2 linked regions of the Homo sapiens genome follow. The protein of the gene in region 2 interacts with the protein of the main gene of each other region in a biochemical or structural test. Each region holds a gene or a part of one and is shown on either strand. Other genes may lie near its edges. The genes, in order: FOXD3 and POU5F1.

What was found.
Region 1: the proteins of POU5F1 (region 2) and FOXD3 form a complex in vitro, tested with the Homo sapiens proteins (one study listed by BioGRID).

The regions. Positions count from the first base shown.
Region 1 is NC_000001.11:63,317,880-63,325,792, reverse strand, and holds FOXD3 (forkhead box protein D3), read right to left. Parts: upstream 3,227-7,913; 5' UTR 2,735-3,226; coding exon 1,298-2,734; 3' UTR 665-1,297; downstream 1-664. UniProt on the Homo sapiens protein: Binds to the consensus sequence 5'-A[AT]T[AG]TTTGTTT-3' and acts as a transcriptional repressor. Also acts as a transcriptional activator. Negatively regulates transcription of transcriptional repressor RHIT/ZNF205.
Region 2 is NC_000006.12:31,163,792-31,167,920, forward strand, and holds the end of POU5F1 (POU domain, class 5, transcription factor 1), read right to left. Parts: intron 3,380-4,129; exon of another isoform or gene 2,257-3,379; coding exon 2,136-2,256; exon of another isoform or gene 1,911-2,135; coding exon 1,780-1,910; intron 1,496-1,779; coding exon 1,337-1,495; intron 1,077-1,336; coding exon 810-1,076; 3' UTR 546-809; downstream 1-545. UniProt on the Homo sapiens protein: Transcription factor that binds to the octamer motif (5'-ATTTGCAT-3'). Forms a trimeric complex with SOX2 or SOX15 on DNA and controls the expression of a number of genes involved in embryonic development such as YES1, FGF4, UTF1 and ZFP206.

The sequences.
Region 1 (7,913 bases), on a different chromosome or scaffold from region 2:
TGGATTGATTATTGCCATATAAATGAGATATCTTATTTGAAAATATTATGAAAACAAAACTATGTATTATCTATCAGATGAACATAAATAAAATCCCACTGCAAAATGTAAAGTGCCTTAACATAAATTTTAAAACCAGCTGGGTCTATTTACCACTTCCACTTAAGGAATGAAAAGAAATAATTTCAAAAATCTAAGATTTAAATGTTAAAAAGAGGGATGTTTGGAATTTACTTACTTTTCAAAGGATAATTGAAATGACCAAGAACTCTCTCATTTGGGAAGTTTTCATTGTGGAAGATACAAGTCTAGTCATTTTTTAAAAAAATTTAAAGACTGCTGTTGTTTCGGTTTCTTTTTTTAAATGACAGCTTACTTTATCTACAGAAATGTCTGGTCATTTAGATTTAATGGGTTGATATGAATGATATCACTCACATCCTGATTTTATGTGAAAACTAAAAGAAAAATAGTAACACAATTTAAATTAGGCATACTATTTCCTTTCTCCAATTAAAATTTTCTTACACTCAAATTATGAATTTAAAAAGTTTGAAAAGGCCATTACTTGAAATTCCTTGATTTTCTGGGGAGGAGAAAAGGCAAATAAATACCATTTAAAAATCTTGCCATTTACTTCAGACAACTAAATAAAACACTAGGCTGGGCATTTTAAAAATTTATTTACAAAGTTGTGTACAACACGATGGAATAACATTTAGAATACCATATATATTCATTCATATATAAACAGACTTTTATAATAGAATGACACTTTTTGCCTTTTTGAAAATTTTTTATATTTAAAATCTCCCAACGTCTCTATACATTCTTTTCTCAGATAAAACTTCGGAGAGTGAACCTTCAAAAAAAATGAAAGTTCAGAGCTCTAAATCTACGGAATTTGTTTTTTCTTAAAAAAATAAAAACCCCAAAAGGAAAGTCAATAATTTTTTTACAAATATATACAAAGAATTTCCCTCCCATCCCCACGGTACTAAGAGCAGGCGCCGTCGGGGTGCATTTTTGGAAAATTCGGTTTTCGGTTTTACCTGTATGGAAAGCTATCCCCGGCGGGCGCGCGGTGAGTTTGCTCGACCAGCTTAGGTGTGCGCGAGGGGATGGAGGCCGCGGAAGGTAGGCGTTGGGGGCTCAGGGGAAAGGAAATTGGGGAGAGGCAGAGTCCAGGATTGGGCAGCGGGACCGGGACCGGGCTTGGGACAGGGCGCGCAGCCTGGAGGTGCATTTGTTGCTCGAGGCCGCCGCCGGACCCTGGGTCCCGGCCATTGGCGCGTCCCTATTGCGCCGGCCATTTGGCTTGAGCGGCGGCCGCAGCAGCGGCGGCGGCCGAGGCTGCGGGCTGCAGAAACTGTCCGGAGAGTGGCACGCTAAGAATGGGCGCGATGGTGGCAGTCGTCCGGCTCAGCGACAGCGGTTGGTGGGTGGCCATGAGCGCTGCCGACTGCACGGTCCCGGGTGGCCGCAGAAACGACTGCGCCGTGCTGCCGCCCCCTGAACCCCCAGTGCCGCCGGCGACCCCAGCGCCCACCGCCGAGCCCCCAGGAGCCGCGGGGCCCCCACCTATGATGTTCTCGATGCTGAACGACGGCCGCGCGCTTGGCTCGGACTTGATGAGCGACGCGGTGGTGCCCGCGGCGCCCGCTGTGCCCGCAGCGGCCGCGGCGGCGCCCAGGCTATTGAGCTGCAGCTGCAGGCCCGGGCCGAGCTGTGAGCCGAAGGCGGCCGCTTTGCGGCCCAGCTCGCCCGAGGGCAGCAGCGGCACAGCGGGAGGCAGCACCGGTGCCACCGGCGGCAGCGCGTACGGGTACTGGAGCGCCGCCGCAGCAGCCGCGGCCGCCGCCGCTGCCGGGTGCGAATAGGCACCGGCCGCCGCCGCAGGGTGCAGGCCGTAGGGGCGGCCGTAGGGTCCCGCGGCGCCGGCCGCCGCCGCCAGGCTGTAAGCGCCGAAGCTCTGCATCATGAGCGCCGTCTGCTCGCGCAGGTGCTCCTGCTGGTGGCGCTTGAAGCGTTTCCGGCGCCGCAGGAAGCTGCCGTTGTCGAACATGTCCTCGGACTGCGGGTCCAGGGTCCAGTAGTTGCCCTTGCCCGGGTTGCCCGGCTCGCGGGGGATCTTGACGAAGCAGTCGTTGAGTGAGAGGTTGTGGCGGATGCTGTTCTGCCAGGCGGGGAACTTCTCCCTGTAGTAGGGGAAGCGGTTGCTGATGAACTCGCAGATGCCGCTCAGGGTCAGCTTCTTCTGCGGGCTCTGCAGGATGGCCATGGTGATGAGCGCGATGTACGAGTAAGGCGGCTTCACTAGGCTGTTCTTGGGCTTGCTCGGGGCCAGGCCTCCCGCCGAACCGCTGCCCGCGCCAGGCCCGCCGCCGCTCGCGCCGCCCTCCTCGCCGCCAACACCGCCCTTGCAGCCGTCCGCCTCCGGCGCGCCCACGTCGCCCCCCGGTCCGGCCCCGGCTCCGGCCGCCTCCTTGGGCAATGTCAGGGGCTGCTGGTGGGGCGGCTGAGGCTGTCCGTGATGGGGTGCCGCCGGGGGCACCTCGTCCGCCTCGTCCAGGCGCAGCTCCGGCGGCCCCGCGGGGCTATCGCAACCTGCGTCGCTGTCCTTCTCTTCCAGCCCGTCGTCGCCCTCGCCCACCACATCGATGTCCACGTCCTCGGCCGTCAGCACCGTCTGGCCGGACATGTCGCTGGCGCTGCCGCCGCCGGAGAGGGTCATCCCTCCTCGGGGTTGGTAGCGGCGGCGGGGAGGGGGCAGCGGGCGATGAGGGTGTTCGGGGGCTGCCACGGAGCTCAGGGGAAGAGGGTTTGAGTGCCCCCGAAAGATGGGGGGCAGGGAGAGGGGAGGGGGCCGCAGGTGGCTTGGGGCCCGCTGGGCTCAGCTCACACTCGGCGGCCCCGCATCGCGTGGCGCGGGCTCTGCCGTCCGCCCCCAGCGGCCGCGCTCCGCGAACTCCTGCCGTCCCTGGCGCTCGGTACTAGGCGCTCGCTACCGCTCCCGGCCCCGGCGGTTCTCCACGCCGCGCCCCCTCACTTAGCCCGCCTTCCTCGGCCTCTGGCCCTGGCGTGGGGCGCAGGAGCGGTCCAGGCGGGCGCGGGACGCCGGGCGCCGAGCAGCTCGGGAGGGCGCGGGCAGGGACAGTAGCGGGGGGGCAGGGGGCTGGGTGTCAGGGACGCCGAAGCCCCGGTAGTCGAAAGTCCCGTTTTAAGGACTGGCCTGATAGATTACTTTCTACTTAAAGATCCAGCGGGAGGCGGGGCCACGTGACCGTGCGTGACGTCAGGGCCGCGGCCGAGCCGGCCAAACTCAAGTTGGTTCAGGGAATTGTCAACAAAGGGACGAGAGACGCGCAACTCCGCTCCGCACTGTGCGCCAGCATCCCCGGGGCACGGAGGGCGCTGCGGCCCGCCCGGAGACCCCCCCACCCAGGCTGGATCCGGGCCCTGGGGCCCAGGGAGCGGGTGGGTGTGAGTGTGGGTGGGTGTGAGCGAGTCAGGGCGTGGGCCTGGGAGCGTCCGCGGGACTGTGCGACTGTCGCTGCCCTGCCTTCCCCGCCCCCTCTCCCTTCCGCCCTTCTCCCCCCCACTTTGTCACACTCCTTAGACAGGGACTGGGCGACCTAGAACGAGGTTCCCATATCGTGTTTTAAAAAGCAAAACTTAGTCTCTGTTTTGCTTTTTGTTTCATTGTTTTTAGCTTTAAAGAGTAAGAGCAGCGCACCCGGCTCCCTCCTGCTAATTAGATTTCAGATTCCCCTCTGGCCTCAGTGCTCATTCCGGGGAAGACACCTGCTGAGATGTCTTTTTCCCCCTCCCCCAACCAAACCACTCAGGTCCTACCTGCTCTTTCCCGGCTTGATGCGGGCGTGTTTTCCTGTATGTATTTTTTCGTGCGGCCACAAAAAGCATCAGCTGGGGTTCCCGAAGGTCAGAAAATGGCTATTGATTAATCTACTAGAATAGTTGCCGAGAGAAATAAAAACGACGTAAAATAGCAGGGAACCTATAAATAAAGAAGCCATAACTGGCTACTTGGAGTTGTTAAACGACTTAGCATATGAAAAAATCGGAAATGAGGCGCTGGGGAAGGAGCTGGGATTGGCAGCGGCCTGGGTAAGTCGAGTGGATCCGGGAAGAGGCCTGGTGTCTTCAGGTTAGACGCAGCGCCCAGGGGCGGCTGAAGAAACGTGAGGGGTGCGGGCAGTGACTTCCCGGGCGGCGGGCATGGCCTTGGGGGAACCTGGGCAGACTTGGGCATGCCAGCATGCTGGGATCTCCGTTGCTGCCAGCTAACGTGGATTTTCTTCTCTTAAGGTGTGGACAAATCCTCCAAGATTTAACTTCCAAGAAAACCGGCGGCGGAGCGGGTGGAGGAGGCGAGGATGTGTGGCCAATGCACGCGGAGTGCAAGGCAAGTCAGTGATAGTAGGAAAAACTGTGGGGATTTCACTGGGACTGGAGGGGGAGGCACCGCAAACCGACCCCCAAGTGCGTGGCTGGGGTGCGTGGACCTCACACCTCCAAGGAAAGTCAGTGCTCTTGACGCGGTGAATCAGCGATGCGCCTCCTCTTTCCTCCCTCATTTAGGCCGCCTAGTTGGGAGCCGCAAGAGCCTGCCTGGTGTGGCAGGCACACGGAACCCAATCCCTGTCTGTCCGCTGCGGCCTGGGAGGGGAGCGCCGGCCTCACCAGAGGAAGGAGCACGAGGGGAGGAGTTCCGAGAGGAAATAATTAGTGAAATATTTGCAGAAGATGCTGGGATGTGGATTTAATTCCGGATGGACAGTGGTGCTTCTGATTCCCTCAGTCTGTTTCCCCACCCACGATCTCCTCTTTCCTTGGCCTAGACACACCAAAAATAATTCAATAAAATAAAAATAAAAATTTAAAAATCTGTAAACTTGCTTCATTACAGGCATTGAGACACACAGATTGACTTTCATCCCCATTAGACAGTTTCCCAGGATATAACACTACTCATCTGAGGCTGGGAGCAGGGTAGGGGGTGGTGACACTATCCTGAGACGCCCGCCAACCTCCACAGTTTTTCTTTATCTAAATGATCCCGAGGTTGCACACGGCCCTAAAACGCATCTCAGAGTTGATTTCCGTAGCTCCACAGCTTTGTGGCCCGCAGGCTCCGAACCGTTTACAATGCCGTCTAGACAGCTTTCCGCGAAACCGACCCGAGCTGAGCTGGCTGGCCATCGCCCAGGACTGCAGAGGTCGCGTCTGCAACTGCCTCAGCAACCGAAGTGTCGGAAGGTCCAAAAAAAAAAAAAAAAAAAGCTAAAAAGCGGAAATTTACACATTCAGGAACCTCCTTTGCTCTGCTTGGGTTGCCCAGCCCTAAAGGCAGGGGCCCGGGGCGCAGCGCTGGCCCTGCCGCGGCCTTGGTGGCTGGGCCCGCGTGGACTAGTATGTGTGGATGCGCGCCGGAGGATGGTGGCTACAGGGCTCCCCTCACCGGTCTCGAAGTAGTCTCCAAATGAGCCTAATTTCGATTCCGCCGTCCGCAGAGGCTAGCTCTCTGGACTCCCTCCACGCTGCTGGTCGCTGCCTCCTACCCTCCCTCTGCCACGGCCCAGCCTGATCCGTCCATTCCCCGGTGTCTCCTTGGAACCTCCCTGGGGAAGGGGGTGGAGGACGAACAACTCCCAGCTGCCGGTTCCATTTGTTGCGCTTTTTTCCTTCGACACAATAAAAGTCAAATTAATTGATTCATACCATTAATTACGGCGCGTAGCGTGAAAAGCAACGCTTCCCCTCGGTTAGAGATCTATTGTGCTAATCTCTTGTTCAATCAGTGTTACCATCTGATGCTGGGTCCGGCCCTTACAGAAACTTTTCGACTCGATTAGCTAAATGATGAGACGTGCACAACCTACTGGCTGCGGCCCCGACGTCCCGCGCCCGCGCCGGCCTAATATCGATTTCCAGCGGAGGCAGAGGATTTTTCCGCGGCCGCTCTCGGCTCAGGAACCGGCCGCCGGCTTTCTCCCTCCAGGCGGACCATAGCGCCTGCACAACCTCCGGGGGCGGGAAGGAGGCGAAGCGGCGGCCGGGGAGGGCGACAGGAAGGTTCCTGCTGGCCTTGACGCAGGAGGCCGCCCCAGCGGAAGGGTCCGATCCCGACGCGGTGCAGGGTCCTGCCGGAGACCGGCTAGATGTCGGGCTAAATAAATTGTTTGCCGCGTAGTTGCAGTTTGCAGCTAAAAGCTCACAGGTCGTCAGTTACCGCCAAGCTGTAGGACAGAGACGGAAGAAGCGAGACAGATACAGAGAGAAAGTGAGACACATGTAGTGGGGGGAAGAAAATGTGATAAAGGGTGTATGTGGATAAAAAGTTTCTGAGTCTCAAAGGGTTATTGGAGAGATAGAGGGAGAATGAGTAGACACACACACGCAATTATGAGTTTGAGTGACTCTTTGAGTCTCAACAAGCGAACTTCCCAGGAGAGATTTAAAAAGGAAGATGGCAGCCAGCTGCCTCACCTGCTCAAATGTTTGAAATGTTTCAACCAAAGGAGAATGGAATGAAACCCCTTCGGTTCCTCTGGAGCGGGCAGAGTACATGGTACCCCGCTGGGAAAGCCACCTGGACGCGGTGGGAATGAGGGGTGCGGGGAGTGGGGATCTAGGTTCTAGCAACAGGAGGCAAGAAGAATGGAGTCCGGATCGATAGGAAGGAAATTGAGACGTCTCCAGGGGAGGGGAGATTTAGTGTGTGCGTCCAGTGGGGGGATGGGGGGGAAGAAATGGATAGAAAAATTTATGATGGAGAAAGGGAAATTAATTACAGCTCATTTTGGGTTCTTAGGTGGTCAACACTGGAGGAGGGGCACGGTTAGAGTGCGGAAGGCGGGAATTGCCCACCTACCCCTCACCAGGCCCAAGTGAACCCATATGCCTCTTTTCTCCTCTTTTAAGTCAGAGACAGTGCCAGTGGCTTGAATAAGTCGTTGGCGCGATGTGAGATAGAATCATCATGCCCGCGCGCGGGTGCACTTTTCTTACAATACGGGGAGTTGGGACCAGGTTCCGCGGAGTGAAGGGCGCGTCCCCCACCAAGAGTAGTTACTCTTTGTCCAAGAGGGAGCAAAACGTGGGTGGGACTATTAGAAAAATTCCCCTCCTTTCTCCCCAACACCCCCGCGCCCGCAACAATCAAAGTCTGCTGCTTCTTGAAAATCTTCATAGATTTGTTAAACTATTACCGGCCTCTTTGTCTGGATGGCCGCCACCAAGGAAGGTGGGAAAGGGCAGAGGTGGTACCCAAGGCCCCAACCCACCCAGATTACTTCCATTTCCCAAAGCGGGGGATTTTCAACTCTCTTACCCACCACTACCCCCTTGTATACCTCTCCGGATCTTTTCGGGGTGGAAAAAAAGAGGCTATTTTAATGTTCTTGTTTGGATTTGCATCTCAAAACTTCATTTATTTTCAAGATGTCTGCCACTCAGGGTCCACGCCAAGGCGTGCCTGTAAATGGCGAGAGACCAAAAGGAAAGGAGGAGAGAAAGAGGAAGAGAGAGAGGATGGTTTCGAATTTATTTATATTGGAAATATATAAACATCCATTCTGTAAAAGGCAACACGTTTAATTAACGATGAGAGAGCAGTTAGGGGCAGAAAGCTAGTAAAATTGTGTGATAAATTTATGGCATTGTTAGCGTGCTTTTAATTATGGCTATTATGTTAATTATTTCACATTAGCATGGAGTTATCAGCAGCATGTCGGATTTAATAAAAACGAGCCTTTCTCTCGAAAATTGTTCTTTTCATCCACGAGGAGAAAGGTCCTGGACAGGATCGGGGCTTAAAAATGACTTGGCATTGAAAGCCGGAGTCTTTCTGACACCGTTTGGAGCGATGCGGCCAGGCCCGGCTGTCCGCT
Region 2 (4,129 bases):
CCCGCCCTTTCCTACCTAGATTTAATGAGCCCAAGTTTTTAAAATGGAAGAAATGACTCTGGGGCAAAGACCCCTAATGAACTAGTGGCAGAGCCAGGAATAAAACTTGAGTAACTAATGAGTCACTTATGGGCAGAGTATGCAAAAACCTTAAGTGGAAACCAAATAGACCCTGGTATCAAGAAAGCACAAAGTATTAATAGAAGTTTCTGGTTGGGGTGATCTAGGTTCAACAGAAATAAGATGATTTCTAAGTATAAAGCCATTTAAGAATTCCAGAGTAGGGTGGGAAAGCAAAAAGCCAGCTCTGAACAGGTAACAGCTACATGGTGACTGAGTCTATGGGCAAAAGTTCTTGCATCACAGGCTTTTGGGAACTAGCCTATCACAGGGCCCTGTACAAATAAACTTGGCTGCAATCCCAGCTCTCCCTCTGATGTTGTGTGACCTTAAGGAGTGTAAATGGCACCTTAGTTTCAGGGTCACTTGGGTATGAGCATTGGATATTCCCATCCCTACCTCAGTAACTGAAGGACAAACCAAGATAAGTGTGTCTATCTACTGTGTCCCAGGCTTCTTTATTTAAGAAAAAAGTGATACATGATGTGGGATTAAAATCAAGAGCATCATTGAACTTCACCTTCCCTCCAACCAGTTGCCCCAAACTCCCCTGCCCCCACCCTTTGTGTTCCCAATTCCTTCCTTAGTGAATGAAGAACTTAATCCCAAAAACCCTGGCACAAACTCCAGGTTTTCTTTCCCTAGCTCCTCCCCTCCCCCTGTCCCCCATTCCTAGAAGGGCAGGCACCTCAGTTTGAATGCATGGGAGAGCCCAGAGTGGTGACGGAGACAGGGGGAAAGGCTTCCCCCTCAGGGAAAGGGACCGAGGAGTACAGTGCAGTGAAGTGAGGGCTCCCATAGCCTGGGGTACCAAAATGGGGCCCTGGGGCCAGAGGAAAGGACACTGGTCCCCCTGAGAAAGGAGACCCAGCAGCCTCAAAATCCTCTCGTTGTGCATAGTCGCTGCTTGATCGCTTGCCCTTCTGGCGCCGGTTACAGAACCACACTCGGACCACCTGCAAGTGAATGACAGAAAGGAGAATGACATTAGACAATGAGCTGAGACGGGCCTGACTCTGCTTGGACATTCTATCCAAAGCCAACAGCCCTAGAGCAGTTAGAGGAGGACATTAGAGAATGAGCTGAGACAGGCCTGACTGCTTGGACATTCTGTCCAAAGCCAACAGCCCTAGAGCAGTTGGAGGAGCCAGAGCTAGGGAAAGCGAGGTGGTGACAGGGGAAAGAGATGGAGCCCGCAGAGAGACATGGCACTCACATCCTTCTCGAGCCCAAGCTGCTGGGCGATGTGGCTGATCTGCTGCAGTGTGGGTTTCGGGCACTGCAGGAACAAATTCTCCAGGTTGCCTCTCACTCGGTTCTCGATACTGGTTCGCTTTCTCTTTCGGGCCTGCACGAGGGTTTCTGCTTTGCATATCTGTGCAGGTGGGAAGGGGGTGACAAGGGCAAGCTTTGGACTTGCTGAGTAACAGCATCACAGGGGTCTGTGACTAGATGTGTCAGCAGAGCCAGGTGGTGGTGTGAAAAGGCAGGATCCTGGAAGGGTTGGCTCTGGACCTTATCCCAGCAGAACTGAGGAATTTCACTCCATCCCACTGAGAACCACTGCACCAAAGACGGAGAGCTACGAGCCAGTGATGGAAGCAATGGAAATTAGGCCAAGAAAGGGAAGGTCCCCGGGTATCCCCCTCCCACCCTTACCTCCTGAAGATTTTCATTGTTGTCAGCTTCCTCCACCCACTTCTGCAGCAAGGGCCGCAGCTTACACATGTTCTTGAAGCTAAGCTGCAGAGCCTCAAAGCGGCAGATGGTCGTTTGGCTGAATACCTTCCCTGGGGGAGGCCAGTCAAAAGAGAAGCAAAGTGAGGGAGCACGCAGGGCCCTTGTGACCCTGAGATCCAAGCTTACCACCTCTTCCCAGAGGGAGCTCAAAGCATCTTCTCCCTCTCCCTACTCCTCTTCATGGGTGAGGGTAGTCTGCCCCTGCCCCTCCCCACTAGGTTCAGGGATACTCCTTAGAGGGGAGATGCGGTCAGAATCTGCAGAGGGGAACCCACCAAATAGAACCCCCAGGGTGAGCCCCACATCGGCCTGTGTATATCCCAGGGTGATCCTCTTCTGCTTCAGGAGCTTGGCAAATTGCTCGAGTTCTTTCTGCAGAGCTTTGATGTCCTGGGACTGGATTTTAAAAGGCAGAAGACTTGTAAGAACATAAACACACCAGTTATCAATCTCCCCTTTCCATTCGGGATTCAAGAACCTACGTGTGGCCCCAAGGAATAGTCTGTAGAAGTGCCTCTGCCTTCCAAGCTGCCCACCTAACTTCTAGAAATAACCTACCCACAAATGTCATTCACCCATTCCCTGTTCACTGACTCATGCATGTAACAAAGGACTACTCTTCCCCCAGAAACTGGCACATCCAAGGGATGCAGAGCATCGTGAAAGGACAGAAAGAGAGACCCTGGCCTCGAGAACACCTGTCAGGTTATGAAGGTTAGAAGTTCTTTGCTGGGCGCGGTGGCTCACGCCTATAATTCCAGCACTTTGGGAGGCCGAGGTGGGCAGATCACGAGGTCAGGAGTTCAAGACCAGCATGGCCAACATGGTGAAACCCCGTCTCTACTAAAAACACAAAAATTAGCTGGGCACGGTGGCACGCACCTGTAATCCCAGCTACTCAGGAGGCTGAGGCAGGAGAATCACTTGAACCCGGGAGGCGGAGGTTGCAGTGAGCTGAGATCACGCCACTGCACTCCAGCCTGGGTGACAGAGCAAGACTCTGTCTCAAAGAAAAAAAAAAAAGAAGATAGTTCATTTAATACCTGCAAAATTCTCTCACTCAAGTATCACCCCCAGTTTAAGGATGTTTTGAGATTAGAGAAATAGATAAGCTGCTAAGTTCTGGGTTAATTAAAAAGGAAGAGCATCATGTCTCAGAAGCTAAATTCAGTATATACTCTCCCCAGCTTGCTTTGAGGGTCCCACAAACTATAACATGGCATGCATACACACAAACACAGCAAAAAAGTAACAGGTGTCATAAGAATGGATAAAGTGCTTTGTGTGTACTTACTCATTTTTTAAATTGATTATCCCTCATCTTTACTGTATCTTTTTCACTATAGAGGCATCCTAATTGATTTTTAAATTCAAGAGATTTATCGAGCACCTTCTATAAGCCAGCGGCTATACAAAGTGGACAAAGAGCCCTGACATCCAGCATGACAGAAGTGCTATTTGGCACTTGTTCTTCAAGTTGCCCACTTGGATCTCTTCCAAGTGCACTTTCCTTTTTTCCCTGCCCTATAACTTTTTAATAATAAACTTCCACTCCTGCTCTGAAAAATAAAAAAGTAAATAAAATAAAAAATGGCCAGGCACAGTGGCTCATGTCTGTAAATCCTAGCACTTTGGGAGGCCAAGGTGGGCAGACTGCTTGAGCCCAAGAGTTAGAAAGCAGCCTGGGTAACATAGTGAGACCCGTGCCGCCCCTTCTCCCACCCCTGCTGCCTCTATTTAAAATATATATATATATTATGGAAAAAAGTAAAGCAGTCTGGGCGCAGTGGTCATGCCTGTAATCCCTTCACTTTGGGAGGCCAAGGTGGGTAGATCACTTGAGGTCAGGAGTTCAAGACTAGCCTGGTCAACATAGTGAGACTCTGTCTCTACTAAAAATACAAAAATTAGCTGGGCATCATGGCGCTCCCCTATAATCCCAGCTACTCAGGAGGCTGAGGCAGGAGAATTGCTTGAACCTAGGAGGTGGAGTTTGCAGTGAGCCAAGATCGCACCACTGCACTCCAGCCTGAGGGACAGAGTGAGACTCCATCTCAAAAATTAAAAAAAAAATAAAGCAGTCTATAGGAGTAGGGTAAAGGAGGGAAGGAGATTATGGAGGAGGGTGACACTTTTAAAGACAGAGAAGGTGATTGTTTGAGCAAAGGACAAGAGTCTAATGTGGCAAGGCCCTGAAGTGGGCCTTCCAGAGCCCAAAGCTGGTCTGGTGGCTAGGTAGATCCTGTTGCAGACATAGTGACTTTGTTTT